Linked DNA regions of Homo sapiens. The protein of the gene in region 4 purifies or fractionates together with the protein of the main gene of each other region. This does not show direct contact. Each region holds a gene or a part of one and is shown on either strand. Other genes may lie near its edges. The genes, in order: CYB5B, GPR89A, SLC25A23, SLC5A8, TVP23C, CACNA2D1 and SLC25A46.

The links.
Region 1: the proteins of SLC5A8 (region 4) and CYB5B purify together in Homo sapiens (affinity purification with mass spectrometry; one large-scale study listed by BioGRID and IntAct). This does not show direct contact.
Region 2: the proteins of SLC5A8 (region 4) and GPR89A purify together in Homo sapiens (affinity purification with mass spectrometry, with the first as the bait; 2 studies listed by BioGRID). This does not show direct contact.
Region 3: the proteins of SLC5A8 (region 4) and SLC25A23 purify together in Homo sapiens (affinity purification with mass spectrometry; 2 studies listed by BioGRID and IntAct, with this or other methods). This does not show direct contact.
Region 5: the proteins of SLC5A8 (region 4) and TVP23C purify together in Homo sapiens (affinity purification with mass spectrometry, with the first as the bait; 2 studies listed by BioGRID). This does not show direct contact.
Region 6: the proteins of SLC5A8 (region 4) and CACNA2D1 purify together in Homo sapiens (affinity purification with mass spectrometry; one large-scale study listed by BioGRID and IntAct). This does not show direct contact.
Region 7: the proteins of SLC5A8 (region 4) and SLC25A46 purify together in Homo sapiens (affinity purification with mass spectrometry; 2 studies listed by BioGRID and IntAct, with this or other methods). This does not show direct contact.

Annotation. Positions count from the first base shown.
Region 1 is NC_000016.10:69,444,807-69,448,727, reverse strand, and holds part of CYB5B (cytochrome b5 type B), read right to left. Parts: intron 1,579-3,921; coding exon 1,450-1,578; intron 614-1,449; coding exon 584-613; intron 1-583. UniProt on the Homo sapiens protein: Cytochrome b5 is a membrane-bound hemoprotein functioning as an electron carrier for several membrane-bound oxygenases.
Region 2 is NC_000001.11:145,624,900-145,628,820, reverse strand, and holds part of GPR89A (Golgi pH regulator A), read right to left. Parts: intron 1-3,921. UniProt on the Homo sapiens protein: Voltage-gated channel that enables the transfer of anions such as iodide, chloride, bromide and fluoride which may function in counter-ion conductance and participates in Golgi acidification.
Region 3 is NC_000019.10:6,445,940-6,449,860, reverse strand, and holds part of SLC25A23 (mitochondrial adenyl nucleotide antiporter SLC25A23), read left to right. Parts: intron 1-3,921. UniProt on the Homo sapiens protein: Electroneutral antiporter that mediates the transport of adenine nucleotides through the inner mitochondrial membrane. Originally identified as an ATP-magnesium/inorganic phosphate antiporter, it also acts as a broad specificity adenyl nucleotide antiporter.
Region 4 is NC_000012.12:101,207,053-101,211,596, reverse strand, and holds the start of SLC5A8 (sodium-coupled monocarboxylate transporter 1), read left to right. Parts: upstream 1-1,358; 5' UTR 1,359-1,748; coding exon 1,749-2,099; intron 2,100-4,544. UniProt on the Homo sapiens protein: Acts as an electrogenic sodium (Na(+)) and chloride (Cl-)-dependent sodium-coupled solute transporter, including transport of monocarboxylates (short-chain fatty acids including L-lactate, D-lactate, pyruvate, acetate, propionate, valerate and butyrate), mocarboxylate drugs (nicotinate, benzoate, salicylate and 5-aminosalicylate) and ketone bodies (beta-D-hydroxybutyrate, acetoacetate and alpha-ketoisocaproate), with a Na(+):substrate stoichiometry of between 4:1 and 2:1.
Region 5 is NC_000017.11:15,546,473-15,550,393, forward strand, and holds part of TVP23C (Golgi apparatus membrane protein TVP23 homolog C), read right to left. Parts: intron 677-3,921; coding exon 587-676; intron 1-586. Other genes in the region: TVP23C-CDRT4 (uncharacterized protein LOC100533496), read right to left, coding at 587-676.
Region 6 is NC_000007.14:82,440,945-82,445,565, forward strand, and holds the start of CACNA2D1 (voltage-dependent calcium channel subunit alpha-2/delta-1 isoform 1 preproprotein), read right to left. Parts: upstream 2,834-4,621; 5' UTR 2,516-2,833; coding exon 2,421-2,515; intron 1-2,420. UniProt on the Homo sapiens protein: The alpha-2/delta subunit of voltage-dependent calcium channels regulates calcium current density and activation/inactivation kinetics of the calcium channel. Plays an important role in excitation-contraction coupling.
Region 7 is NC_000005.10:110,759,205-110,763,125, forward strand, and holds part of SLC25A46 (mitochondrial outer membrane protein SLC25A46), read left to right. Parts: intron 1-1,999; coding exon 2,000-2,578; 3' UTR 2,579-3,921. UniProt on the Homo sapiens protein: Transmembrane protein of the mitochondrial outer membrane that controls mitochondrial organization.

The DNA.
Region 1 (3,921 bases), on a different chromosome or scaffold from region 4:
TCCATATTTTCTTCCTGGTATGCAATGTAGTACACATTAAAGTTTTCAAACACTCAAATACTTAGTCTTTTGTTTTCGCTGTATTACTAAGTAACCGGGAAGGGTGTGGGCCTGTTTGAGCCTACAGGAAAAAAGAATTAAATTTGGAAAATAAGTACAGAAAGGCCTCTGTATTACAGATAAAGAAGATAACCTATAAGAAACAAAACAACTTTGCAATTATTTTTTTCCAACACAGAAACAATTATTATCACTTGTCCTACATAATGTAAAAGTAAGATATTTTTCCACAACTGAACCCATAAACTAATTTCTTTCAAAACCACACAGGGCATAGCTTTGGAGTTTCAGTTAAAAAAAAAAAGCGTATAAAGGCATTAGCAAAATGTTTCCTACTGTTCAAGACTCAGCTATTCTTTTATTCCTGAGATGATACTGAGTCCAAATTCCAGAAAAATAGGATTTTTGCTTGGGGAAAAAGTAAATACTTTGTAACTTCTCTTGTTAAGAAAAAATGTTTCAAAAAGCAGTCCTACTTGAGTAAACACAAATATAAACACAAGACAAACCGCTGACTTCTTACCTTGCTACCACTTTCAGGTTTAAGGTCACTCTGTCAAAAAAAGGAAAACAAATAATATTTTAAGACATAGCCAAATGAATTCTCACTATATGCTTGTTTCTAACTTTGGAACATGAGACTATATTCTGGTGATAGTGAATTCCCTGGGAGATTTGAGGATCCATAGAAAGATACCTCTACTCTGAGCATATCAGAGTCCCTTGTTAGAATGGTATATATGGATAGTTTTTAAAGTCCATAATTACTACCTTTAGCAAGGAGCTTGCAAAAACAAGCAAACCACTATTTTAGGTAAAGGTGTTATTAACTGCATTACAAAAATAAATCAACACATAAAAATAATCCAGAATCAGTTCCCTTAGCTTTTTAGAGATATTACATGTGCTACCTGGCAAAGAAGAAGCTATATCCTAGCACAGTAAGACTAGACAATTTTGGAGAAAATTTAGCCTGATGGCTAGATTGAATGAATTTCCATTTTAATAATTTTTTTTTTTTTTTTGAGACAGAGTCTCGCTCTTTCACCCAGGCTGGAGTGCAGTGGTGCAATCTTGGCATACTTCAACCTCTGCCTCCCAGGTTCAGGCAGTTCTCGTGCCTCAGCCTCCTGAGGAGCTGGAATTACAAGTGTGCGCCACCACACCCAGCTAATTTTTGTATTTTTTAGTAGAGGTGGGGTTTCACCATGTTGGCCAGGCTGGTCTCGAACTCCTGACCTCAAGTGATCCGCCTGCCTTGGCATCCCAAAGTACTGGGATGACAGGTGTGAGCCACCACGCCCAGCCAATAATTCATTTCTTCATCCTGTTCTGCAGCTGTTAAGTAGTTTTCTCTGCATAAGGGCTCCCATCTCTGATAGTTCTTACCGGATGGATATCACCAATGTAGTACTGCTTTAGCATTTCTCTGGCATCAGAAGAGTGTCCTACATCTTCAAAGCTTTCACTTGCATCTACACCAGCTTGTTCCAGCAGAACCTCTTCTCCTCCAGGGTGCTACAAGGAAAAGATATTTACTGAACCGAGGGTTCTCTGAAAAGCAAACCAACAAGTTACTTTCCCATACCCCCTTCTTCCTTTCTCCCTTTAATAGAAATAATGGAACAAATTGACATTGTGTGGTGCCTGACAGGATGCAATGGGAAGAACACAGCATAACTTCTGTGATACTGTGGTCAAAAATGCATCATATGGGGATTACAGTGAGGACACCTGGGACAACCACAAATTTAGAAATATTCTACAAAATCTTTCTGGACAGGTCTGGCCTGTGATCTCTAAAGATACCACAGTCATGAAAGTCAAAGAAAGAGTGAAGAAACTGTTCCAGATTGAAGGAGGCTAGAGATTCATGACAACTGGGAATAATGGGTGATCCTAGGTTGGTTCCTTTTGCCAATATTATTGAGATAGCTGCAGAAACCTGACTAAGGACTCCAGGCAAAGGGTATATGCAATTCTTTATTCTATTCTTGCAACTTTTCTGTAACTTTGAAATTGTTTCAAATTAAAAAGTTAACTAGGCCAGGCACGGTGGCTCATGCCTGTAATCCCAGCACTTTGGGAGGCCAAGGCGGGCAGATCACTTGAGATCAGGAGTTCAAGACCAGCCTGGCCAACTTGGTGAACCCGTCTGTACTAAAAATACAAAAAGTGCCAGGCATGGTGGTGGTGGGTGCCTGCAGTCCCAGCTACTCAGGAGGCTGAGGCAGGAGAATCACTTAAACCTGTGAGGGGGAGGTTGCAGTGTGCCAAGATCACGCCACTGCACTCCAGCCTGGGCAAAAGAGTGAGACTCTGACTCAAAATAAATGAATAAATAAATAAGTTAACTATATAAAGTAGTGCCTCAGGAAGTAGATTCTATAACTATCAGCTATGTGACCCTGCACAAGTTATTAAAAAATTGAGATGTCTTTAGTTCCTTAGTTGTAAAATGGAAATATTAATAAGAGTACCTGTCTTGACAACTATTGTACATATTAAATGAGATAAGCATATAAAACACTTTGCACTCCAGAAGAGCATAATATAATACCATCTACAATTTTTAAATGAAGATATATATATGCATATTTATACCCATGCATAAAATCTCTCTGAAAATGGTGAAAGAACCTAGTGGCTGGGAGATAGGGTAGAAGGAAGACTTCACCACATACTCTTCTGAAAAAAAATTTTTTTTTTTTGAGATGGAGTTTCGCTCTTGTTGCCCAGGCTGAAGTGCAATGGCACAATCTCAGCTCACCGCAACCTCTGCCACCCGGGTTCAAGCGATTCTCCTGCCTCAGCCTCCCAAGTAGCTGGGATTACAGGCATGCGCCACCATGCCCAGCTAATTTTGTATTTTTAATAGAGACGGGGTTTTTCTCCATGTTGGTCTCGAACTCCCAATCTCAGGTGATCCACCAGCCTCGGCCTCCCAAAGTGCTGGGATTAAAGGTATGAGCCACCATGCCCAGCCTCTGAAACTGTTTTACCAAATAAAGCATTACTTACTCAGAAAATTAACCATTTTGTAAAATTATATTTAGCACAGTCCTTGACTTAAATACTCAAAAAACATTTACTTAAATTAGCAAATTTAGAATTTATATTATTTAATATATCAAAATTTGTATTTTTGAAATATTAATGCTTTTTACTTTTTATAACAACCATTTCAGCAGGAATAAATTATCATTCCTATTTTAAATAAATGTTAATTCAATTGAAGTATAAAAACTGTAAGTGTTACTTCCCAGTCATAGTCACCAGCCTATGAGCTCCCTGAGGATAAGGATAACTTCTATTTTTATCTCCTAAAAGGTCTCCACCCAGTGAGTGGGTCTCACATCCCAGTATTTAAGAATGCTATTTTACAGCAAGAGTAAGACAGCCACGATTCACTTGTTATTATATCTGAAACTCTCAGGTTATTATATGTGAAACTGTTCTTTGTTGTGGAACTAAGTCATCAGTTCTGGAATTATGTCCCAATTTGTTCTATACACCTAAACTATGGATGATATTTTTTCCTTTTGACACAACCCAACTATTGTGTTGCCTTTCAGAGTAAAAGGACAATAAAACTCCTTCATAGATTACAACATTTCAGGGAATGACTGAATTTTTGACTTGCTACACAGTTCTTTCTACAAGTACTTTCACTTTCATCAGTCTCTCACCACTTATAAACAAGAGAAAGCACAACACTTTTTTAAAATATTAAGTAAAAGTTATATATTCGCTGTGGTAAATTTGGAAAAAAGAATAATCAACTAGAGTCCTGGAACAGAAATAAGTCCAGTTAACAATTTGGTGCATAAAACTTCATTTTTCCTGTGTATTCTTTCAATC
Region 2 (3,921 bases), on a different chromosome or scaffold from region 4:
TGTCACCTTTTCTTCACCTCCAGTTCATTCCTTAACTGACTGCAATCCAGCTTTCTTCCCATTCTTCTTTATTGAATGAAATTACTTTCACTAGTAATTGTAATGGCAATAGGTAATATTCACCAAGCACCTGCTATGACTAGGCACTGTTCTAAGCATTTCACATGTTCTAATTCATTTAACCCTCATAACAATCCTATGAGGTAGATATTATTGAAAACCTAATTTTACAGATGAAGAAATGGAGGCACAGAGAGGTTAAGTAACTTAGTTAAGGCCACACAGATAAAAGGGGCAGAGTCAGGATTCAAGTGCAGTCTAGCTCCAGAGTCTGGGCTTTAACCACTACGACACTATGGTAATAAGTTTTCCCCTGGTTGCAAAATTCAACATTTTCCAATCCTTGTTTCATTGGCTCTTTTATGACATTGAATCATTTTTGTTTAAAATTATTTTATCTTCTTGGCTTCCACAACACCATTTCCCTAGGTTTTCCCTTTTACTTCTCTAATTGCTTTTTCTTGGTCACTTCTTGCTCTGTCTGGACCAGAGTTCTCACTTTCATTTCAGTATACACATTTTTTGCTTAGGTGATCTCACCAATTTCCCCAGCTTCACCTAATGGCATTTAGTTGATGATTTCTAGTTGTTTAGATTCCTGGAGTCATCTCTATGAGGACTGATACATGTACACCTTTTCCCTAAGCTCCTGATTTGTACATCCAATTGCTTATTTAACATCACCTGGATATGCATAAGTAACTCAAATTCAGCATATACCAAACTAAAATTATCTTTCCCCTCAACTTGTTCCTTCCTCTGCATTACCTGTCTTAGAAAATGACATAATCACCCTAACAATAAAATCTATACACTATACGATTACTTTCCATTCTATCTCTTGCCTTTCCTTGAATACACCAAGGTCTTTCTGCCTCAGGGCTTTACATGATGTCTCCTGTGCCTTCTTGCTGGGTCTTCCTTTGGTCTTGTCCTTTAAATCTCAGCTTAAATATCCCTGTCTCAGAAAGGGTGGATCTAACTGTTTGCACTACATTATCGGCATTTTTCTCTATCACAGCAACCTGTTCACTCCTTGATGACAATGATCACAATTGGCAATTATTTATTTATATATTTACCTCTTTATTGTCTAGTTCCACCCACAAGACTATCAATTTCAGGGGGGCAGAAACCAAGTTTGTTTCGTTTGTGGTTTATTTCCAGTGCTTAATTTATATAAAGTGGATGCTCAATAAATATTTGTGTAATGCTGAATGAACGAATAAATCCTCACCTAAATTCTGTTATTCTACTTGCCGTATACCTCTTGAATTTGCAACCCCTTTACAAGAAGACATCATTTCTTATTGATCTTTGTTTTCCTTACTGCTTGGCACATATGAGGTGTTCAACAAATGTTTGTTGACTATAATATCACTCAGTAACATAAAAAATCCAAGAGATTAATATGGGCTATTAAATTTGAAAAACTGAAAAAATTCCCCCTCTACCTTTATTCCTTTTAACATGGTGTCTTTGTCCTTTTATTACATATCTTTTTCTGGTTTAAAGTACTTTGTAGATACTATTTACTTAATCTCAGCATTTCTATGAAGTAGGAGTCAGTCATCATTATCCCCATTTAGCAGTTAATACATGGAAAGTCAGATGAATAAGGAGACTAGCAGAAGATCATCTCACCTTTGCCACCTGCTCACACAGATTCCTTACAGTCTTTTGTAATCTCTCTTACTCTTTCCCACTAAGGACATTCCAAGGTTGGTTCAGACACCGCACAAGAAGTACTTTTACAGATTATCTTTTTTTCATTTTACATAAGGATTGGTCTTATCTTTTTTTTTTTTTTTGTAGAGTCTCGCTCTGTCGCCCAGGCTGGAGGGGAGTGGCACGATCTCGGCTCACTGCAACCTCAGCCTCCTGGGTTTAAGCAATTCTTGTGTCTCCGGCCTCCGGGGAGTAGCTGGGATTACAGGCATGCACCACCATGCCTGGCTAATTTTTCTATTTTTAGTACAGATGGGGTTTTGCCATGTTGGCCAGGCTGGTCTCTAACTCCTGGCCTCAAGTGATATCCCTGCCTTGGCCTCCCAAAGTGCTGGGATTATAGGGGTGAGCCAACCTGCCCAGCCCATTTTTTTGTGGTCACCACAGCAATAAACAACCATACTGGTTGTTGGGACAGTCCTGGGAAAGCTCTAAGAAGGCAGTGTAAGGCTGGTTGCTTCTCAGCTACTACCTAAACTTTTCTTCCTCCTTACTTATCTTAAAGGGTTAAATAAATTAAGATACCTGAACATTCAGGCATAAAACTGTAATGCCTATTGGAGTACAATGGAAAGAATAAAACTGAAACTATCTCCCTAGCTTTCTCCCTCAGTGTCCTTTTCAGGGTAATCCCATAGAATTTAGAAAAAGGGGTGGATGAAAGGACAATAGATACAATGGCCTTCATCTTCCCTCTGGTGCGGCCTGGCTGCACTGGTCATGTGAGCTGAATGCACACAGGAGAAAGCTGGAGAAAGGTGTCAGAGTCGGGTCTTTGTAGTGCATGTGAGACTGTATTTGCCCTGTCAGCAGCCCTGGGGGCCTTTTCTAACTCTTCTCTCTGACTTCTACCGTCACAGATAAATGTGTCTGTCTGTGGGTTTCTTTGAAATAGGTTTATATGAGAACTATACTACCAGGACTCTTTAGTGCAAGTCGTTCCCTTTGTTGACCATTGACATAGGCATGCTGATCACATTAGCATTTCCTAAATTCCTATCCAGAGTGTTAAAGTAGTAAACTCATCTACCACTTTGGAGAGACTCAATTTTCTTCCATCCACTGATTCAAAGAACACGTATTAAACACTTGTTATGTGTCAGTTTCCACACTAGGCACTGGGGATACAAAGACAAATAACATGGAGTTTTCTGACCTCAGGGAGCCCATAGGTTGATGAGGAAGTTAGAAAAGGAAACATGAAATTTTAAGTTTTATAGATGATATAGATACCTTGAGATGGTAGCAATTAATATCTCCTAATGATGGCCAGGAAAATCTTCCTAAAGGAATTGACAAGAGTTGAATCTAGAAAGGATAAATAGGCATTTTCTAGGTAGACAGGGTTGGTGAAGGATTGTCCAGGCTGATAGAACAGCTCTAGAAACTTGAGGCTGGGTGTGGTGGCTCATACTTGTAATCCCAGCACTTTGGGAAGCTGAGGTGGGTTGATCCCCTGAGCTCAGGAGTTCGAGACCATCCTGAGCAACGTGGAGAAACCCCATCTCTATGAAAAAATACCAAAATTAGCCGGGTATGGTGGCATGCGCCCATAGTCCCCGTTACTCAGGAGGCTGAGGTAGGAGGATCACTTGAGCCTGGGAGTCGGAGGTTGCAGTGAGCCAAGATCATGCCACTGCACTCCAGCCTGGGTGAGAGTGAGACCTGTCTCAAAAAGAAAAAAAAAAAGAAACTTGAAATAATTTCACAGGACTGGAGAATGCAACATGTATAGAGAGCAGCAGCCAGGTCATGAAAGGTCTCATACGCCACCTAAGAGTTTGAATGCTTTTGGCAGGCTGGTGTTATGTTAAGTTTTCCGGCCTTTAACGTTATTTGAAATTTTGAAAGTTATTCTTATTTTAAAAATACACAACTATTTATGGTATTGCATATGCTTTTCAAAACTGCATATCTCCTCTGATCTTACTGCAGGAGAGTCTCATAACCTCTCTCCCGAAATTCCTGCTATAGGCAATCAGTATACATGGAAGGGTGTGTGGGAGGTATGGCAGATTCTATAATAGACACTGGCTCATTCAACATTAATTCCAATATCCTTTTCCAGCATTTGTTTTGGTACTACAGAGTTTAGAAAGCCAAAAGCCCCTTCTCAGACTTCCTTGAGGCCAA
Region 3 (3,921 bases), on a different chromosome or scaffold from region 4:
AAAGAGTTGTGAGTAGAAATAAGATGCGGCCAGGAGCAGTGGCTTGTGCCTGTAATCCCAGCACTTTGGGAGGCCGAGGTGGGAGGATTGCTTGAGCCCAGGAGTTCGAGACCAGTCTCTATAAAACAATTTAAAAATTAGCCAGGTGGCCAGGCACGGTGGCTCACGCTTGTAATCCCAGCACTTTGGGAGGCCGAGGCGGGTGGATCACAAGGTCAAGAGATCGAGACCATCCTGGCCAACATGGTGAAACCCCATCTCTACTAAAAATACAAAAAATTAGCCAGGCATGGTGGCGGGCACCTGTAATCCCAGCTGCTTGGGAGGCTGAGGCAGGAGAATGGCATGAACCTGGGAAGCGGAGCTTGCAGTGAGCTGAGATCGTGCCACTGCACTCCAGCCTGGGTGACAGAGCAAGACTCTGTCTCAAAAAAAAAAAAAATAGCCAGGTGTGGTGGTGCACACCTGTAGTGCCAGCTACTCAGGAGGCTGAGATGGGAGAATTGCTTGAGCCCAGTACGCAGAGGTTTCAGTGAGCTGTGATCATGCCAATGCACTCCAGCTTCAGCAACAGAGCAAGATCCTGTCTCAAAAAAAAAAAAAAAGAAAGAAAGAAAGACAGAAAGAAGACACAGTCTTATTATTTAATGCATTCTTTACCCAAAAAGGGACTTTAAAAGTCTAAGAGGTTTTAGAAACCTTGGAGTTTCAAAATCTGTGTTTGTCCCTTAAAGGCTCCGAGAAGTCTCTCAGTAAAGTGATTTAACTTTTTTTGTTTTTAACCCAGTGCTGGCCACATTAATCTAGTCTTTAGAACTTTTTTTTTTCTTTTTTTTTGAGACAGAGTCTCACTCTGTCACCCAGGCTGGAGTGCAGTGGTGTGATCTCAGCTCACTCCAACCTCTGCCTCCCAGATTCAAGCAATTCTCCTGCCTCAGCCTGCCGAGTAGCTGGGATTACAGGTGTGCGCCACCACGCCAGGCTAATTTTTGTATTTTTAGTAGAGACGGGGTTTCACTATGTTGGCCAGGCTGGTCTTGAACTCCTGACGTCAAGTGATCCGACCACCTCGGCCTCCCAAAATGCTGGAATTGCCAGGTGCAGTGGCTCACACCTGTAATCCCAGCACTTTGGGAGGCTGAGGGGGGTGGATCACAAGATCAAGAGATCAAGACCATCCTGGCCAACATGGTGAAACCCCATTTCTACTAAAAATACAAAAAATAGCTGGGCGTGGTGGTGGGCACCTGTAATCCCAGCTACTCGGGAGGCTGAGACAGGAGAATCGCTTGAACCCAGGAGGCGGAGTTTGCTGTGAGCCAAGATCGCGCCACTGCCCTCCACCCTGGGTGAGAGAGCGAGATTTCATCTCAAAAAAAAAAAAAAATGCTGGGATTACAGGCATGAGCCACCACACCCGGCCGTCTTTAGAACTTCTTTTCAACAGATTGATCTTAATAATAACCCATTAAACATCTATTTGGCAAGTGCTGTTCTAGACCCAAAAGAAGGCTTCTAAAATTTCAAAGGCAATAATGTTAAGTACTTGCCTATTTTACCCAGTCTGTGCCTGGGCTAGGCATTACTAATCCATCACAGCACTGAGTCCTGCTCAACACAATTCCAGTTTCAGGCAGCAATTTCTGGTGGATTAGAATTGGCATAGGAAATGAAACCTATAAGCCTCTCCCAGCCGCAAAGCAAAGAAGGTCTTGTTCTTACAGTCACCTTGGCAGAAGGCTTCAGAAGGGATTAGCCACCCTAAAGTCTTCAGGTGCACAGTTCTAGATTCACATACAGCTGTGAATGTTGGTTCTCACCTTTATTTTGTAGCTTTGGGCAAGTAACTTCCCGAGCCTCAGTTTCTTTTCTATAAAATAGAGATAATAGGGCCGGGCATGGTGGCTCACTCCTGTAATCCCAGCACTTTGGGAGGGAGAGGCAGGCAGATCACTTGAGGTCAGGAGTTGGAGACCAGCCTGGCCAACATGGTTAAACCCTGTCTTTACTAAAAATACAAAAATCAGCCGGGTGTGATTGTGTGTGCCTGCAATCCCAGCTACCTGGGAGGCTAAGACAGGAGAATTTCTTGAACCCGGGAGGTGGAGGTTGCAGTGAGCTGAGATTGTGCCGCTGCACTCCAGCCTGGGCGACAGAACGAGACTCCGTCTCAAAAAAAAAGCAAAAAATTAGCCAAGCCTGGTGGCACATGCCTGTAATCCCGGTGGCATAAGCCTGTAATCCCAGCTACACAGGAGGCTGATGCAGGAGAATCACTTGAACCTGGGAGGTGGGGTTGCAGTGAGCCGAGATGGTGCCATTGCACTCCAACCCAGGCGACAGGGTGAGACTGTGTCTCAAAAAATAATAATAAAATAAAAATAAAGATAATTAGCCGGGTGTGGTGGTGCACAGCTGTAATCCTGGCTACTCCAGAGGTTGAAGTAGGGAGGATCACCTGAGCCCAGGAGGCGGAGGTTGCAGTGAGCCGAGATTTCACCACTGCACTCCAGCCTGGGTGTGAGAGCGAGACCCTGTCTCAATAATAATAATAATAGTTTTGGTCTTAGTTTGAGATCCTTCCAAAACAGACCCTGAAACTGGGACGTGAGGACAAGTGATTTATTGGGGAGGTAATGAGACAGGGAGTCAATGCACACAGTATGAGTATGTTAGTTTCCTAGGACTGCTGTAACAAAGTATCACAAACTGGTTGGCTTAAAACAACAGAAAGTTATTGTCTCACAGTTCCAGAGGCCAGAAGTGCAAAATCAAGGTGTCAGCAGAGCCATACTCCCTCTCAAACTTGTTAGGGGAGAATCCTTCCTTCCTTCCTTCTTTCAGTTTCTGCTTGTTCCCAGCAACCCTGGACATTCTTTGGCTTGTAGATACATTCACTCAAATCTCTGCCTCCGCTGTCACCTGGCTGTCTTTCTCCGTGTGTGTCTCTGTCTTTCTCCTCTACGGACACCAGTCATACTGGACTAAGGGTCTACCCTGTTACCCTACTCATCTTAACTAATTAGATCTGCAAAGACCCTATTTCCAAAGAATGTCACCTTCTAAGATACTGGGGGTTAGGACATCAACATGTTCCCCCCCAAAGGAGGGACATGATTCAACCCGTAACAGTATGTTATCAAGCAAGTTACTATTCCTAGCAAATGGAGTTCCAGCCCTCTAGAGATCTGTGGGAGGCAGCATAAGACATGCTGCACCAGAGAGATGAGGGAGCTGGGGTATTGATCCACCAGGTCAGTCTTTTGAAGGTTGCATCTGGAGATGCTAATTTCCCAGGGCTTTCTGCCCATTCCTAAGTGGTCAGAGCCGGCTGGCCTGCGTTCAGAGAAAGTCCACAAGCAAAGTCTTTGGGTAAATGTTGGCAGTAAGAAGTCAGCAGGTCTGAATTGGAGTGGGAAGGGATGAAGGTGGTGTACTCACAGCATCTACCACAGGCAGTGTCGTTGGAGAGTGTTTTTTTGTTCATTTGTTTGTTTTTGAGACAGTCTTGCTCTTATTGCCCAGGCTGGAGTGCAGTGGTGTGATCTTGCCTCGCTGCAACCTCCGCCTCCCCGGTTCAGGCGATTCTCCTGCCTCAGCTTCCTGAGTAGCTGGGATTACAGGTGCCTGCCACCACACCGGCTAATTTTGGTATTTTTAGTAGAGATGGAGTTTCGCCATATTGGCCAGGCTGGTCTCGAACTCCTGACCTCAAGTGATCCACCCATCTCAGCCTCCCAAAGCACTGGGATTACCAGTGTGAGGACGCCAGGCCCGACCTTTTTTCTTTTTGATACTGAGTCTCACTCTTGTCGCCCAGGCTGGAGTGCATCACGGCTCACTACAGCCTTGAATTCCTGGGTTCAAGCAATCCTCCCACTTCAGCCTCTTGAGTAGCTGGGACCACAGGCATGCACCATC
Region 4 (4,544 bases):
TGCTTCTAACATGACTATAGAAATGTATTGATCATTAGCTGCCTGAAGTTCTGTTCTTAACTCTAGGTGTCCAAAAGAAGATGAATTTTGTTTAGATAGCATTTTCCCATATCTAGGGCTGTTGGCTTTAAAGAAGTTCCCAGAAGTGAATCCAATTCCCAGAAGGATCAAGGTGGATTCTTTTGTGTGTTACTCTAACAGGTTGCTTTATATATATATATAAGTTATATAATATACACATATAATTTATGTATTATATATAAGTATGTATAACATCATATGTAATATATAAATATAGTACATTTCACACTGGTAGGACGTAATTCCAAACCACATATTTGTTTAACCAATTGAATTACTTGGATTTAGTTTCTATTTCCCTCTTTATTTCCTTCTGAAAATATTATACAAATAACATCAGTTTACAAAAAATAAAATCTGATATAGCTTTTTTATCATACACTAGGCTAGACTAAATGCATTCTGTGGATTGTTTACCTAGGACCAGATGGTATATTATAAAGTTGTATACAAATGAACAAGGACTGCCTGAAATGGATTGATAGCTGAGCACATTTGGCTGGAGCGTCTATTTTAGAAGGAAAACCTGAGAATCATATTATTTGAGTGTGATTCATGTGTTAATAGTATTTCAAGACAAGCCACTTAAAATATGTCCTGAGTGGTGATGCTGGAAATGATCTTTTCTTCAGTGTTTTCAAGTGTCTTCATTTAAGTGTACACATTTTGCCTACCTATAACACGTATCTACACATTGTGATTAAGAGAGCAAACTCTGAAATCAGACCTAGATTAAAGATCTTAATCTCTGCCAGTTGATTGGGCAAGTGACTTAATCATTCGACAGTAATTTCTGCATTTGAAAATGCCTATCTCAAGGGTAATGAGAATTACACTGGTTCACCAAAAGAATTACACTGACTAATATAAAACGTGCCAAGCATGTATGTGTCACATGAAGGCTCATTAAAAAGCGGATATTATTGTTAATCTTCCAATAACTACTATTTCCAACAACAGGCTGAAGGGGCTCAGAAACGTTTGTTGAGTAAAAACACAAGGAAACAGTAGCACAGATTTCCTGCTCTCCTTTACGATCGATGACCTGTCTAAGGACTGTGATCTCTGTTCACTACAGATTGTCACCTGCATTAATCTACTGTCACCCATTAACCTATCAAATAAGGCAGTCTAAAAACTCCAGGCGTCCCTTTCCGTAAGGACCCGGACTGTTGAACTGGAAAGCTAAAATTCAAGGCGTGACAATTGCCCTTTGTCCCACATTCCTCCACCGGTCGCCTGCTTATTTAAATGGTGCGTCCCCTCGGGTACCACTTGAACAAAACCTGCCCAGAGCGCTCCCTGTGTAGATTCGCTGGAAGCAGCTGGAGGCTCCAGTTCTCATCTGCTCAGGTGTCCCCGGCGCCTTGGCGAACTCGGCCACTCCAGTTCCTCACGTGGTGAGCACTCAGGGCAGCGGGTCGATTTTCCGAGGTCCCATACCTGGGTTTGAGGGGCGCGGCTCGCAGCGGCGGGTGCAGGGGCGACTGCCAGCCCTCACCCCGCCTCGGGGTGCGTTCGGAGGCCGACACCTGGAGGACGCCTCCAGTCCCCGCGGGACGCCACGCCTGCGCGCCAGGGATCCGGGATAAGAAGTGCGCGCCGGGCTCCGGCTGCGCGCCGCGGGGCCACCAGTTTGCGCGCAGGGCTCAGGCGACCGTGCGGCCATGGACACGCCACGGGGCATCGGCACCTTCGTGGTGTGGGACTACGTGGTGTTCGCGGGCATGCTGGTCATCTCGGCCGCCATCGGCATCTACTACGCCTTCGCTGGGGGCGGCCAGCAGACCTCCAAGGACTTCCTGATGGGCGGCCGCAGAATGACCGCAGTGCCCGTGGCGCTGTCCCTCACCGCTAGCTTCATGTCAGCCGTCACTGTCCTGGGCACCCCCTCCGAGGTCTACCGTTTTGGGGCCATTTTTAGCATCTTTGCCTTCACCTACTTCTTTGTGGTGGTCATCAGCGCGGAGGTCTTCCTCCCGGTGTTCTACAAACTGGGAATTACCAGCACCTACGAGGTAAGGGGCAGGGTGGGCTGGGACCATGCAGGGCGCGGGGGAAGGGGACTCTGCAGACCTCTGGAGGCGTTTTCTTGGGGGCAGACTGTCACTGCCACATCGAAATCTCTCCCCGTCCATCGTCATCATCACCCTCCCTTCACTCCTCCCCGTCCCCCGATCTTCACCTGGCATCTTTCCCTTCTACTGAGAGGCGTCCTCTAAGGGTGAAAAAATTCTTGGGATTTACTCTCCTGGGCTTAGTGAAAAAAAGAGGCTTCCAAAGTGAACGGATTGCAACAGTAGTGCTCGCTATGGTCCTTTCTACCTTTAGCATCTTTGATTCCCAGGCAAGGGGAAAGATTTTTGGGGAAGGTAAGTTCTTCAGGTCTCAGGCCCTGCTTCTTGAAAGGAATACTCTTGTTCCAGGTCCTCAGCCCCATTCACTCTTCCAAGATAGTTGGTAAAGAATTTGTACTCCCCTTCCTTCCCCTTCCACACCCACCCCCTTTCCACTGAAACAGGCACCCAAGTGGCTAAGGTGTACCAGTACCTGTATTTCGGACCAGATTCTACCACTTACTAGCTGGGTGACCTTGGGTGACTTACCCAACCTTTTGTGCCTATTCCTCAAAAATAAAATAATATCACCTACCTCATCCAGTTGGGAGGATTAAATGAGATGATGCAAGGTGTAGCATTTAGAATAGAGTTTGACACAGAGTAAGTGCCAGATAGGTATTGGCCATAATTACTGTGGTGGTGCTAGTTGTGATGGTGGTAGTTATCTTGGGATCAGTAGGAAAATTAGGCAGCAAGGTTCTCAAACAGCTCTGCCTTCTCTATGGAAAGACAATTAAGGAAAACTGTCTTTCCTCTATTGCACAGGTCCCCTGGCTATAGGTTTTCTCAAGTTGTCTGCAAGAAAGGGCTTTGAAAAGATGATGCACGTTTAGTTTAAAGAGCTGTTGAATGGGAGGTGGGGGCGGGATCAAAGCTCAGGGGAGTGGCGGGGCCCAGTTCAGTGCCTTCAGTGGTCTCCCTCACCCAGCACTGGTCCTTGAGCTACATGGGACAAGCCTGCAGAAGTTTCCTCTCTATTAGGCCATTACCCAGAGGACTCCAATCCTGAGATTCTGGCAGGTGGTTTCCTAGTGAGGCTGGTTCAACTGGTGCTGGGGACAGGGCCTTAACGGCACAACAAACATTGGTGACACACTCTGCCTGGGCTCTAGTGACATCTTCCAGGGCGAGGCACCCCTGGGCAGCATTGCCTTCCATTCACTCTGGGGCTGTGTTTGGGAGAGCTCAATAATTATCCCAGAAGTGAGCAGGATGCAGTTTCTCAGGTTTGCTCAGAAGTGACAAACTGGCGAAATTCCCCAGACCAAATTCACTTCTCAGTCATTTTTTTTTTTTACTTCTCCTTATAGTGAGAAGAAATAAAATATAATTTCAGACTATGACTTCTTTCGAGAACTCAAAAGGCTGGTAACACTGGGCCCATGCTCCCTGTGGCCACAGGAACTCAAGTTTATAGCTATTGCTCTCACTCTCTATTAAACTTCTATATTGAAGTCTTATCTTTGTGTTTTCATGGTTACTGTTTTTTTGGTAGAGAAATTTTTATCTGCATTTATGTCTTTATCAAAAAATGTGAAAGGCAAAATGGACAGGGGTAAAGGGATCTCTTGTTTCCAGGGAGATGTAAGAAAACATATATCTTAGTGGGTGGGAGGAATATTCCAACATGTTAATATGTGAACACCTGGCCACTGTCACTTATGTATGTTACCTGATGGAACCTGGAGGCATCTGAGTCTGTGAGCTGTGATCTATAGCTAACCAATTCCCAAACTTGGAAAGGGTTTGAAGAATCTGGCAGGAGGACTTCAGTCCCCACACATGAATGCTGCTCTCATAACCACTGACCCATGCCTCTTCGGGGCTACAACATTAACTCAAGCAGAAACAGATTTCCCTCATGCTTGCAGTGGTAGAGGCTAAGTTAGCAGGGGTTCCAGCTAAAAATGTCAAAAAGCAAAAGTTCATTGAATGCTGAACACATGCCAGGCACTGGGCTGCATTGCATGTTTTACATACATTATCTGACTCACATTCAGAACAATCCTTATGAGGCAAGTACTATCAAGAGCCCCATTTTGTGGACAGAGACTCAGAGTAAGTTAAGCTACTAGGAATGTGAAGCAGCGTAGACATATGCCTAGCAGCATACTGGCTGCTTCTGAAGGCTCTGATGAGTCTGTTATAACCCCAAGCAATGCTTACGCCAGTGCAGAGAGAACAAGGGAAGCAATATAGGACACGTGAAGTTGTGGGCACACTGCAGGCATCCACCTCCAGGGTGCCAGGCAGTTGGGAACGGGGAAGTTAGGCAACATGCTAAGACCCTCCCAATTGGTCATGGCAAAGACTTTCCTGTGGAGTATATTGTTTATTGTTTTA
Region 5 (3,921 bases), on a different chromosome or scaffold from region 4:
ATACCCTTGGTGTACTGTCGCCAAGAATTTGGTCCTCTGCTTCCAAAACTTATTTCCACAAGGAAAGTGAATATTCACTATAGTGTAGCAGGCTAACCCAAAACAGACCAGGATCCCCAGGGCTCCTGAAGGCAGAAGCTTAGGAATAGAGTGCTCCAATCAGATATTCTATCCAGCTGCACTCCTCCTCCTTTTTCCTGCCCAGAAATGAAAGACGACCACAGGAGCAAAGACAGAACAAGATGTTAAAAGCAGTTATCTGCTGAGCATAGAGGGATTTATGGAGACACTAACAAAGGCAACACAGAGATCTTTTATCAGCAATCCCTGACAGGCAGCTTAGCACACTGTATGAACTCAGACCCAGTGTCTTCCCTCAAAGGATTCTGTTCGTATATTGCTTGTTTCTGGTCTGAACTAGACAGAAAAATGCATTAAATTCTAGAAGGCCATCTCCTTTAGTGCTGACATGCCAAGTGATTTGGTATAGTGTTTTTAATTCTGAATACTTCATCTTCCAGTATTTAAATATAGTCTACAAATAATTTAGCTGATAACATTATTTAAAACAAAAAAGGCACTTTACCTTTCTAGATTCAAACACCCAATGGCTCTTTCCATCTTCATCAATGTGATTCCACCAACGTAGGCCAACCATTAGTCTACCTGTGACATTCTGGTGAAGATTAATATAAACAGGCACATTTTAAAAGCATTATTTAAAGATCTGTCACAAGCTCCTATCTTAGTGTAACATTTCACAAACAAAAACCTTCAGCTTTACCTCCATAATATCCAGTTAGCAAAGACTACTATGTATCAGGCCTGGCTAAACGATTAAGTAAAATGGTAATGGCAGGACTAATAGGGGTAGAGGTGACAGAGCAAGCAACAAGTCCACCCATAAACATTACACCTTCTCTTTTCCCTCATGAACAATTTGCCCTTTCTCCAGTTCCCTAATTTTCCCTAAACCCCTTGCTATTTGGTTACTGTGACCTACTTTACATCCTGACTATAGCTACATATATTTTACAACTACATATCCCTGAAAATGATTATAGACACTGGCCTTCAGTCAGTCTCTCAAGTGTACCAAGCTCTTTTCCTACTTACTAAGGTAACAAATTAGTTTGATAGCTTTCCTAATCTTTATTTACTCAACAAATATTTACTGAGCATCTACTATGTGCTGGTAATACAACAGTGACTAACAGATACCAACTCCTTCCTCAGGGAAAGAGGTGAAGAGAGGCAGACAACCAATGCACAAATGTACCATTACCAACTGAGTTAAGTCCTGCAAGGGAAAAGTGTGGGATGCTTGAAGAGTATAACAGGGAAATTTGATCTAGTCTGGGTATCAGAAAATGACTCTCTGAGGAGTCAACATTTGGAATGAAATATAAAAGATAAATAAGAATCAACAGTACCATGGATGTTTAATTAATGGTGTCCACTAATAGATTCAGTGGTTCTGTGAACCTCGATGGGTAAAAAAAAATGTTACCTTCATTTTCATTAACCTCTGGCTAAAATTTAGCATATCTTTAAATTATGAATGTAGACAACAAACTATGAATGTAGGTAAAATTAAAAACACCCTGACACAATAGAAATCACAGGCATTTTTTTATTTTGTACTATATTTGCTGCAGTTACCTCAAAATATTGTAGTTTTGTTTTTTGTTTGGTTTTGTTTTTTGTTTTTGAGACAGAGTTTCGCTCTTGTTGCCCAGGCTGGCATGCAACGGGGCGATCTCAGCTCACCACAACCTCTGCCTCCCGGGTTCAAACGATTCTCCTGCCTCAGCCTCCCAAGTAGCAGGGATTACAGGCATGCGCCATCATGCCCAGCTAATTTTGTATTTTTAGTAGAGATGGGGTTTCTCCATGTCGGTCAGGTTGGTCTCGAACTCCCAACCTCAGTGATTCACCCGCCTTGGCCTCCCAAAGTGCTGGGATTACAGGTGTAAGCCACCACGCACGGCCTCAAAATACTATTTATGCTCACCACTGCTTTGAAAGTAGTTAGCATATCATTAAATTATGAATGTAGACAACAAACTATGAACATAGGTAAAATTAAAAACACCCTGACACAATAGAAACCACAGACATTTTTCATTTTGTACTATACTTGCTGCAGTTATCTTAACATATTGTTTATGCTCACCACTGCTTTGAAAGTAGTTATTAGACCTGCCACTAGATCTTACCATTAATAAATTCATAAAGTATAGTAGTCCTCCCTTATCTGCAGGGGATACATTCCAAGACCCCCAGCAGATGCCTCAAATTGTGGTTAATACCAAACCTTATATATGCTATATTTTTTCCTATAAGTACATACCTATGATAATGCTTAATTTATAAATAATGCACAGTAAGAGAATAAGAAATAAAAATAGAACAATTATAACAACATAATCTAATAAAAGTTATGTGAATGTAGTTCTCTCTCCTCACACAGTATCTTACTGTTTAGCGTAGCATATAGCAGTACTGAAACCGCAGAAAGCGAAACCTCAGATAATGGGGGAACTACTACACATATAACTCAATCAGAAATTTACTTTTTTAATATTTTTAAATTATATTTCAATATAAGTGACTTCCTTTGAAATCTTATGTATTTTATATATGTGAAAACTTATTCATGAGTTTATGAAAGGGGCCCATGGCATAAAAAGATTAGGAATCCCTGTATGAAGGTGATGTGGGAGGAAGAAGAGCATTCCAGATAGAGCAGCAGGCACTGATGCCCTAATGAAGAAAGTACAATCTATGGATTTATGGGACTTGGTCATTAATTGGATATGGAGTAGGAAGGAGGCAACTGATACATTTACGGTTTGCTCAAGTAAAAAAATAGTGATTCCAGGCCCCACGAAAGGGAACACTCAAAGAAGAAGAGCTTTTGGGGAGTGGAAGATGACAAGTAGTATTTTACACATGTTAAGATATAAGATGCCTGGCCAGGCATGGTGGCTCACTTGGGTTCAAGACCAGCCTGGCTAACATAGTGAAACCCTGCCTCTACTAAAAATACAAAAATTCGCTAGGGATGGTGGTGCATGCCTGTAGTCTCAGCTATCTAGGAGGGTGAGGCAGGAGAATCACTTGAACCCCGGGAGGCAGAGGTTGCAGTGAGCCAAGATCACACCACTGCATTCCAGCTTGCGTGACAAAGCAAGATTTTGTCTCAAAAAAAAAAAAAAGATTTGAGATGCCTTCAAGACAGCCACATAAAAACGTCAAGAAGACACATGGAGAGGCCTTAAGTTGTGAGGACAAACCTGAATGGAGATACAGATCTGGGAGGCAACACAGCTTACAGATCAGCAATTCAAACCAGAAGCACAGACAGCACTCCTTAGGAAGGGAATACAGGAGAAGAAAAGGAAGAGTCTTATGAGACCAAAATTCCTATGGGAGAGATGCTAAGTAAAAAAAAAAAAGAGCTGGCAAGGGAGACCTAAACCAGAGGTCTCTTCTATAGGTATTTTCAAAGAATGCTCTCAGAATACTTTCAAACTCTTCTGTTTCCATTTTCTAACTCTTTATTTCCTGCTTTTATCTTTATTAGTTTATTTTCCTGATTTCTCACACTTATTGCTTGTTTTTGAAATTTCTGGACTCAAGTAGTCCATTATTTTCCCTCTTTCTTGTCTAAAATAAAAGGCTTTAGTCTATTATTTTCCCTCTGAATTCAGTTTTTGACATATTCAGAAAGTTTAACTGTAAATGATCACCATTAAGGTATAAATAACTTATATTTACAGTTTTTGCTTCCTTTTAAACCCAAGATATGTAGTAGTTCGCTTTTTTAAAAGAATTCCAATTTCAACAACTACTTTCTATTAATTTCTAGTTCTGTTTCTTTGGAGTAGAAAATGTAGGTGCTTTGGGCAATTTTAT
Region 6 (4,621 bases), on a different chromosome or scaffold from region 4:
TTTCTGTGAAAAATGAAACTGGCAAAAAAAAAAACCCAAAAATATTTACTAATGATTCCGAGAGAAATTTACATACAGAAGCATAATAATTTGCCTTTATTGACACTACAGTCTTTGCACTCAGTTTTTATAAATTTGAAATTTTCCCCCAAAGATTTGAGATTTGTCCTGATTAAACAGTGCATATGAATTCTTTTCTCGAAAGAAAAGCAAATGGCACATCTTTATGAAAAATATTGCATTTTTTAATTTCATAAAGTTTATTCAGAAATCTAACATGAAGTACAAATGTCAACCATCAGTTCTTTCCTCAGAAGACAGTGTTACTAACTTTTCAAATGAAAAACTGAAGATGCAGAAGGCTTCCAAAAATATTGTTAAGATTACCTACAGGAGATTGACTTCGCTCCACAAAACCTTTTATTAAGTATTTCATTCATTAAATAATCAATGTCTTATATAATTTGAAAATATCTTGAATTTTCATCGTTAAAAAAAATTTCAGATCCTTCCAAAGAAAAGAAATTGTGATGTCCTACTTCCCATTTTAACCCACTATATATACTCTTTCTTGTGTCTAGTAAATTTCTGACCATGAAAATTGATTTACTTATAATTTTAGGAAAGCATTATTGCAGATGTTCTTCTTAACAATAAGGATTTTTACATTAATATTTTACCACAGTATGTTGAGGAATAAAAGGTTGTATTTTGTTGTAGTTTTCCCCAATGGTATGATGATGTATCCCCTCCCATGATAAAAATATTGATAAATTGTCAGTTAAAAACAACACTGTAAAAATGAGTAATCGGAACACATTTAGGAAGTGATTGTTTTTTAAAGAGCCACTTATTTATTTGACACAGAATGCAAGCGACTCATTTGAGTTCTCACTTTACAGGCCAAGCAACAAACAGACTTAAAAAATTAAATGGAAGTGTGATGCCTTAATAAGAGTAAATAATTCTGAAGCATCCTTAGGGTGATTCTTACTCTTTTTATGTTTAAAAATATCTGACTGGAACATCCTGCCAATTAAACGAAGATCTCCAGATGGCATTTACCCTTTTGCTTCATAACAAAAAGGATCTGCAATCAGTTTTATGGAAGATTATCTAAAGAGGAACATTACTGTAACTCAATGACAACAAAAATTAGACACTCCCCTTCTCCGGGATAGAATGTGCATCCTCCAGATTCTTGCACTGACACCTAAGGTAATAAATACTTAAAACTGAATCTTAAATAATAGCCGCAGGATTTCAACCGCTAAAGATTCACTGTTACTTTCCACCAAAAACTCCTGTATTCAGCACTCAGCCAACAAAGGACAGCAAGTAATTCCCAGCAGCATAAATACCGGGAAAGCTACCTTGGGCTTTGTTTTTGTTATGTAAAATGCATTAAAGTGACTCATCCACTTAAGATTACCTACCTTTAGAAGCTTTAAAGAAGCTCCAAGAACCAAAATAAATGCTTTCCCAGAATGCCGGATAGGCTATTCGGTGCATTAAAAAATATGTATATATTTATATGTGCCATTGAGTTTGATTCTATTTTGCTAAGAAAGGAGAGAATTATTATTTTTCATTCCCTTCCTGTGGTGTGACTATAGCTACCTATAAGCCCTCTATTTCCAGAACAGCAGCGAGGTTTTTAAAAGTTATTTTAGAAATGGTAAAAATAAAAGAAAATTTGTAGGAGACTGGAAATAGTCCCTCCTTCAAAGAATAGGCTCTATTCATTTGAAGAACAGGGACCGCGTGTCTGCCGACACTTAGATGTTTCAAATAATGGGTTGGGGAGGTTGGATCGCGTGGTCCCAGTACCTGCGAGCCCCCTGCGTGGACAGCACGCTCGGCCGCGGGGAGCCAGCACGCGTCTAATCGGAAGGCTGTCAAGTGCATCCAGTAACGTGGGATAAAACGAGTTTGGGCACTACAGCAATTAAAGAGCATCTCCGAGGCCAAGTGCGGGGGAAGTCCACGCTACCTCGGCAAGCCTGAAATTACCTGTTTGTAAATTACCCAACCAAAACATAACTTTTTATTGAACTGGGTTGAATCAGAGCGGGTGAGCTGGCTGGAAACTTTTTTCCCCAGTACGGCTGCACTCTGAAGTCTAGAGAATCCCGTTAGAGACGGGCTGAGACGCCGCGAGTCGTCGGCGGGCGCTTCCCGGGACAGTCGGCCCCCAGTGCCCGGCCCCGTGGAGGCGCCCGAGACGCCGGTTCGGGACGCATTCCAGCGGCGAGCGGCGCGCACCGCCTGCCCGGCGTCTCCGCATCCGAGCCTGGCTCCCCGGCCGCTCGCTCCCCACCCCCACGGGCGGAAAAGCCCCGCGACTCGGGAACCGACCCCCACCCCCAACTCCCGCGGCGCCCCTCGGCCGGCGCTCCCTGCCCGGCCCGCCGACTTACGTGACGGCCGAAGGGAACGGCTCCTCCGACGAGGGGCCGATGAGCAAAGATTGGAAAAGTGTCAGAGTCAAGGCCAGCAGGCAGCCAGCAGCCATCTTCGCGATCGAAGATCAATGCCCCCTCCCTGCCCAAGCGGGGGAAGGAGCGGCGCTGGAAACCGCGGGCGGAGGAAGAGCAGCACACGCCGCCGGGACCGCGGGCGTCTGGAGGGCTGGCTGCGCCCGGGGCCCGAGGCGCGGAGCCGCGCGGGGGACGGCAAGGGCGGGAGCGGACGCCGAGGAAGGGGCGGTGGCGGGCGGACCCACTAGCGTGCGTCGGCTGCTCCGCGCCGCGGCCGCCTTGCCTCCGCCGCCATCAAGGGCGACTTTGGAAACAGACCTCGGCGAGCCCGCCGGCGCTCGCGCGCTCTCGCTCTCCCTCTCGGTTTCCTCCCTGATTTATTCCCCCGATTGCCGAGGCGAAGGCGGAGGCGGGGGCGGGGGCGGAGGAGGGGTGACGGCGCTGGAGGGTGGGGGTGGCTGCAGGAATCGGGGAATGGCAGGCAGAGAGACTTGTGGAAGCGAGAGGCTCCGTCTGGCTTCTTAGGCAAGTCAGAGGGAGGCGGCTGGGGGTGGGCAGCGGGAGGGCTGGGCGTCAGAGCAGTCGGGCGGAGACGGGCCGGGAGCAGCCCTCCATACAAGGCAGCCAGGAACTCCCAAAGTCGGCGCCGGCTCGCTCCCGCCGCCCGGCGTGCGCAGGCGGAGCGGACCAGCCCCGCGGGGCTCCCGGGGGACGGCCAGCCGCCCAGCGGGCATCCACAGGCTGCAGAGGCTCCAACCCAGGACTTGGCTCGCGTCTTCGGGGGTTATTTTTGCACATGCAGGCAGCGTTCCCCCCCAGCCCTACTCCCAGGCGCAGAATCCAGTGCCTGCCTGGGAATCGTGAAGTGATTTGACAACAAATGTAGGAGGGGTTTGTATTGCATTTTAAAGCACCACTGTTGACTCTCTACCAGGTGGCACTATATGCCCGCGTGTGCCATAGGTTAGAGCCTCTGCCGGGGCTGGGTGCCCTTTGTGCCAGCGGTCCCACGCCCAGGTACTGCTCGGCTCACCTGGCGAGGACAGAGCCTCAGGGACCGGGCTGTGGACGGACAGAGAAGTACTGACGCTGTAAAATCTTCCCAGCCCTGTGGTTCCATTGGACAGAGGGGTGGAGGGACGAATTCTGCATCTAGGGAGGACAGTAGTAAGAGAAGCGCTTTGCAGCATCCCAGTTGGGACTACCTCCAAAAGGGTCCTAACGCCCTGCTCTGGCCACTGGCCTGCCCTGCCTGACAAGGTTACCGCAGGGTGAGCTCACTTTTGTCAATGCGAAGGCATGAAAAGGGTAAGCAGCAGGAACAGGTGGCACTCTGAGAAATGCGCCTGAAATGTAGAGGAGGAATTAAGGGAGGGGGAGAGAGCTAGGGAGTAGCAATGCCGGACTGGTTTTATCTCCAGACTCAGAGGAAGCAGTGGCGGGCTTTCTCCTTGAAAAGACAGGGTCTGCGACTAGGCCTCTCCCGCCCAACACAGGCCTCCTACAAGAGGGCCCTGGTGGGCCAAAGATAGAAATATATTCTTGCACACCTTAAATTCTTAAGCTCCCTCTAGTAGTGTATGAGAATACTTTTGACATGACGTGCAGAGAATACAATTTGTGATGACTATCCTGCATATGCAAAAATTCTGTAAGTATCGGGGTGGCTGTCAGATTTTTAATTAGCCCGTTCTTATTTTTAGGAGATGCTTCTGAAAGAAAAAGACCCTTATTAATTCGAAATGAATTTTCCAGCTCTCTGAAGGCAATCTCCCAAAACAAAGACTAATAATAATACTACTACTATTAATTACTGGCCAAATTTTAAGAGCGTGTGTGATTTTATGATGCTTAGCCTGGTGAATTTATTTTTCCTTCCCACTTATTTCTCCTTTTTTTAATGCCTTATTTGTTTTCTTTATGTTCTTCGCATCTCTGTCTTGCTCTTTGTTTCTTTCTACTCTGAGTGGCCTCACAAAAGGCACCCCACCGTGACTTAACTTAGTTTGTTTTATGCTAGGCATGGATACTGTGGCAGCAGGAGCTGCGCAAATGAGGGATGAAGTGGGATGTAATGGGATTGAGAACTACAGCTCAGGAGGGATATTTTATATAACTGAAGATAGCATTCCACTCCAAAA
Region 7 (3,921 bases), on a different chromosome or scaffold from region 4:
AAAGAAAGCAAAAATAAAGCAAGGAAGGCAAATAGGATGTGTAATGGGTAGGGAGGGGCGGTTAATATTTTTTTAAGAAGATAAGTAAAGGTCTCACTGAGAAGGTGACATTTGTGTAAAGATCAACATGCATATTTGGGAGAATATTCTAAGTAGAGGGAAGGCAAGTGCAAATGCCCTTACATGGGACTGTGTCATGTGTGTTGTATCATACATGCTTGAGAAGTAGGAAGGATGCCGATGTGGCTGGTGCTAACTAAGCACAAAATAAGCAAATGTTGAATTGTATTTAGAGGGAAAGCAGGTGCAAAAACTCTCAAGTGGGACTGTGTCATGTGTGTTGTATCACACATGCTTAAGAAGTAGAAAGGAAGCTGTTATGGTTGGTGCTAAGTAAGCAAGGGGGGAATACAGGAGATGAGGCCTGAGTGGTAAGAGGGGACCAGATTACATAGGACATTGTAAATCATTGTAATAATTGGGCTTTTGTTTGAGAAGGATGGAAAGTCTTTGATAGGTTTGAGCAGAGCGGTGGTGTGATCTGACTTACATCTTTATTAGGATCTCTTTGACTGTTGCATTAAAAATAAACTGGAGTGGGAAGGATGTCAGGGTCAGAAGTAGGAAGATGGATTAGAAGGCTAGGCAAGCTCACTGTCATCTCATAGTTTTAAATATCATCTATTTACTAAAGACTCCCACATTTATAATACAGTGCTCCTCCACTCACGATGGGATTACATCCCAATAAACCTGTCATAAATTCGAAAAATCTTAGGTTGAGACATCGTAAGTTGGAAACCATCTGTAGGTCCATTGTGTACCTTTTTCTGTAATTTCTATTGTGAACTCCATTTGGAGTTAATTTACTTAACATTTCTGAACTCTTGATCTTCACCAAATTGCTACTCTGGCAATTTTTCATCTCAATAAAAGGCAGTGCTATTCCCCCAGTTCCTCTGGACAGCAACCTTGGGGTTATCCTTGACCCTTCTCTTGCATACCCCAAATGCAATTCACCAGTAATTCCCATAGACTTTGATTTTAGGATAAAAGCACAATTGAACCACTTTACTTCTGTTGCCACCTTCTAGTCCAAGCCACCATCATCTCTTTGTTACTGGAATCATTCCAGTAACTTTTGAACTGGTTTCTCAACTGATCTTGTTCTCCTTTGCACAACAGCCAGTATTCTTTCAAAATACAAATTATGTCATGTCCGTCTTCTGCTTAAAATCAACCAGTTATTTCCCATCTGACTAGAAGCCAAAGTCTACAGATTAGTCTCTAAGGCATGATATAGCCCCTGGCTACCTTATAAATTTCATCTGCTACTTTCCTGCAGTCATTGCTGCAGCCAAAGTGCCTTTTGGCAAGTTCTTTTCTATCTATCTATACCTCGGTAATCCACATCAAACTTTCTTATTCATATCCCCAAAATTCTACAAAAGCAGACATTGCAGGTGGTAATAAGACTAACATTTATTGAGTGACTCCTGAGTGCCAAGCCTTTTTTCATTTAATATTCACAACAACCCTGTGCATAAAAAGTAGACAGTGCTCATTTCCATTTTTGTAGAATGCGAAACTGTGCTTAGGAGAAGTTAAGTAACTTGACAATGGTTACATAGCCAGTAAGTAATGGAGCCAGGATTTAAACATGTTTAAGAACTATAAGCACTATATTGTCTCCTTAAGCGTTACATAGTTATTGCCTTTCCATGTGAGTTCTAAGAAGTTTCTTGAGATGTATCCACCTACACATCTCCCCAGTCTCCCTACCCCAATAAGATTAGCTCCCAACTTCACTGCTAGCAATTTTATGAGATTTCATTTGAAAAAAAATCTGATGCCTAGATAACAGTTAAAGTCTGCAAATCATGGATGTTTCCCTCTTCAGTCACTATGTTAGGATTTAAAAGGAACCTAAAAAGAGTCCTTTTTCTGTGGCAAAATAAGCAAATGTTAAGTTTTACTTATTTCATCATTTTTATTTCAGAGTGAGATAATTCGAGATAATACTGGCATTTTGGAGTGTGTTAAAGAAGGAATTGGAAGAGTGATAGGCATGGGAGTGCCTCATAGCAAACGACTTCTTCCGCTTCTTTCCTTGATCTTCCCTACGGTGCTTCATGGAGTTCTTCATTACATCATCAGCTCAGTTATTCAGAAGTTTGTCCTACTAATTCTAAAGAGAAAGACTTACAATAGCCACCTAGCTGAGAGCACTAGCCCTGTGCAGAGTATGTTGGATGCTTATTTTCCAGAACTTATTGCTAACTTTGCTGCCAGTCTTTGTTCTGACGTTATACTTTACCCATTGGAAACAGTTTTGCACCGCCTTCACATTCAAGGAACACGCACAATAATTGACAATACAGACCTTGGCTATGAAGTGCTTCCAATTAATACACAATATGAGGGAATGAGAGACTGTATCAATACCATAAGGCAGGAGGAAGGAGTGTTTGGTTTTTATAAAGGGTTTGGTGCTGTTATAATACAGTACACACTGCATGCAGCTGTTTTACAGATTACCAAAATTATTTACTCTACACTTCTTCAAAATAACATTTGAGATTTAGGTTCCTTCACTGAGTAGTCTGGAAGATATAATCTGGATAATTTGCTATGAAGTTATGAGGGATACAAGTGAAATACTGGGGAAGAAAATGGATTGGAAAGTAAAATTGGTACTAAAGCCCATACTGATTATCTTGACTTTGTTTTTTAAGGCATAGGTATATATTTTGGATCAAAATCCTTCCAAATTTGAAAACTCAATAAAAATAACACTTATTAAATTCTAGTTAGTGTAGCACTCATGCTGAAGTAAACATGATCGTAGGCAGAAGCAAAATTTTATTATAAAATCTAAAACAAAACTTTATAGAGTTGAATCTATTCCATCTGACTTCAATATTTGCCAAACGTTTATTTTACCTCCTAGATTGATGTTGGTATAGTATCCTTAATACAGTGTAGTATATTAATGTCCTTAATACAATCAGGAGGTTTTTACCTTTAAGCAAATAAATTATGTCATTATTGAAAAAGACTTAAGGGATGATTAGACTTGGCAATCTGTAAGCAGGAGTATAAATGTTTTAAATTGCATTGTCCCTATGTAACTATCTTAATGGCTATATATATGTATTTTATAAAGCCATTTATGTATACACATGTAACTTGGAATTTCCTTCATCCCTACACATTTTCTACACTTACATCACCTTATTGCATAAAACAAAGTCACGCGCTTTCTGCTTGAACATCAAAATATCAAAAACCAAGGTACCCAAAAGATACAAGTCAGAGACAACATCCTTGTCCATATCCAAACCCAGTGTTTCAGTGCTAGCAACTTAATTTCTCATACATTTATAGAGTTTGGTTTGCTTTGCTAGTTGTGTGAATCATTGGGCTGTTTTTAGAGCCACTGTTAAGAGAGAATATAAAATAATCATGACAATTACTACTGTTTCCACATTTACAAATTGTGTACTTAAATGAACCTCATTTCCCTTTTATTTCTGAATGGCTTGTCTGAGAGGAAACAAAATTAAAATTCATCTGGGAATTTGTGCCTCTTGTCTAGTATATAGTCACCACTAAATAATGGCTTCCGTTTTTATTTTCTTTCAGGTTTTGCTTTAAATTTTGTTTTCCAAAATAGATGTACGTGGAGGGAAAAGCAATTATTCTTATCACCTTTTATTTAAACTTCTTTAGATGAATACTGAAGAAAAATCCAAACCTTAAAGGAAATGTGCCCTTGTATTTTATGGGTGAGGGGAAAAAGTACATTTGTACATTTCAACATATAATAAGCAAAAAAATTACTAATCAGTTTAATAAAAACATTTTGTCTATTCCTAAATGTAATTTGGTGGGTTAAGCACTTTGTGTAGTAAAATGATA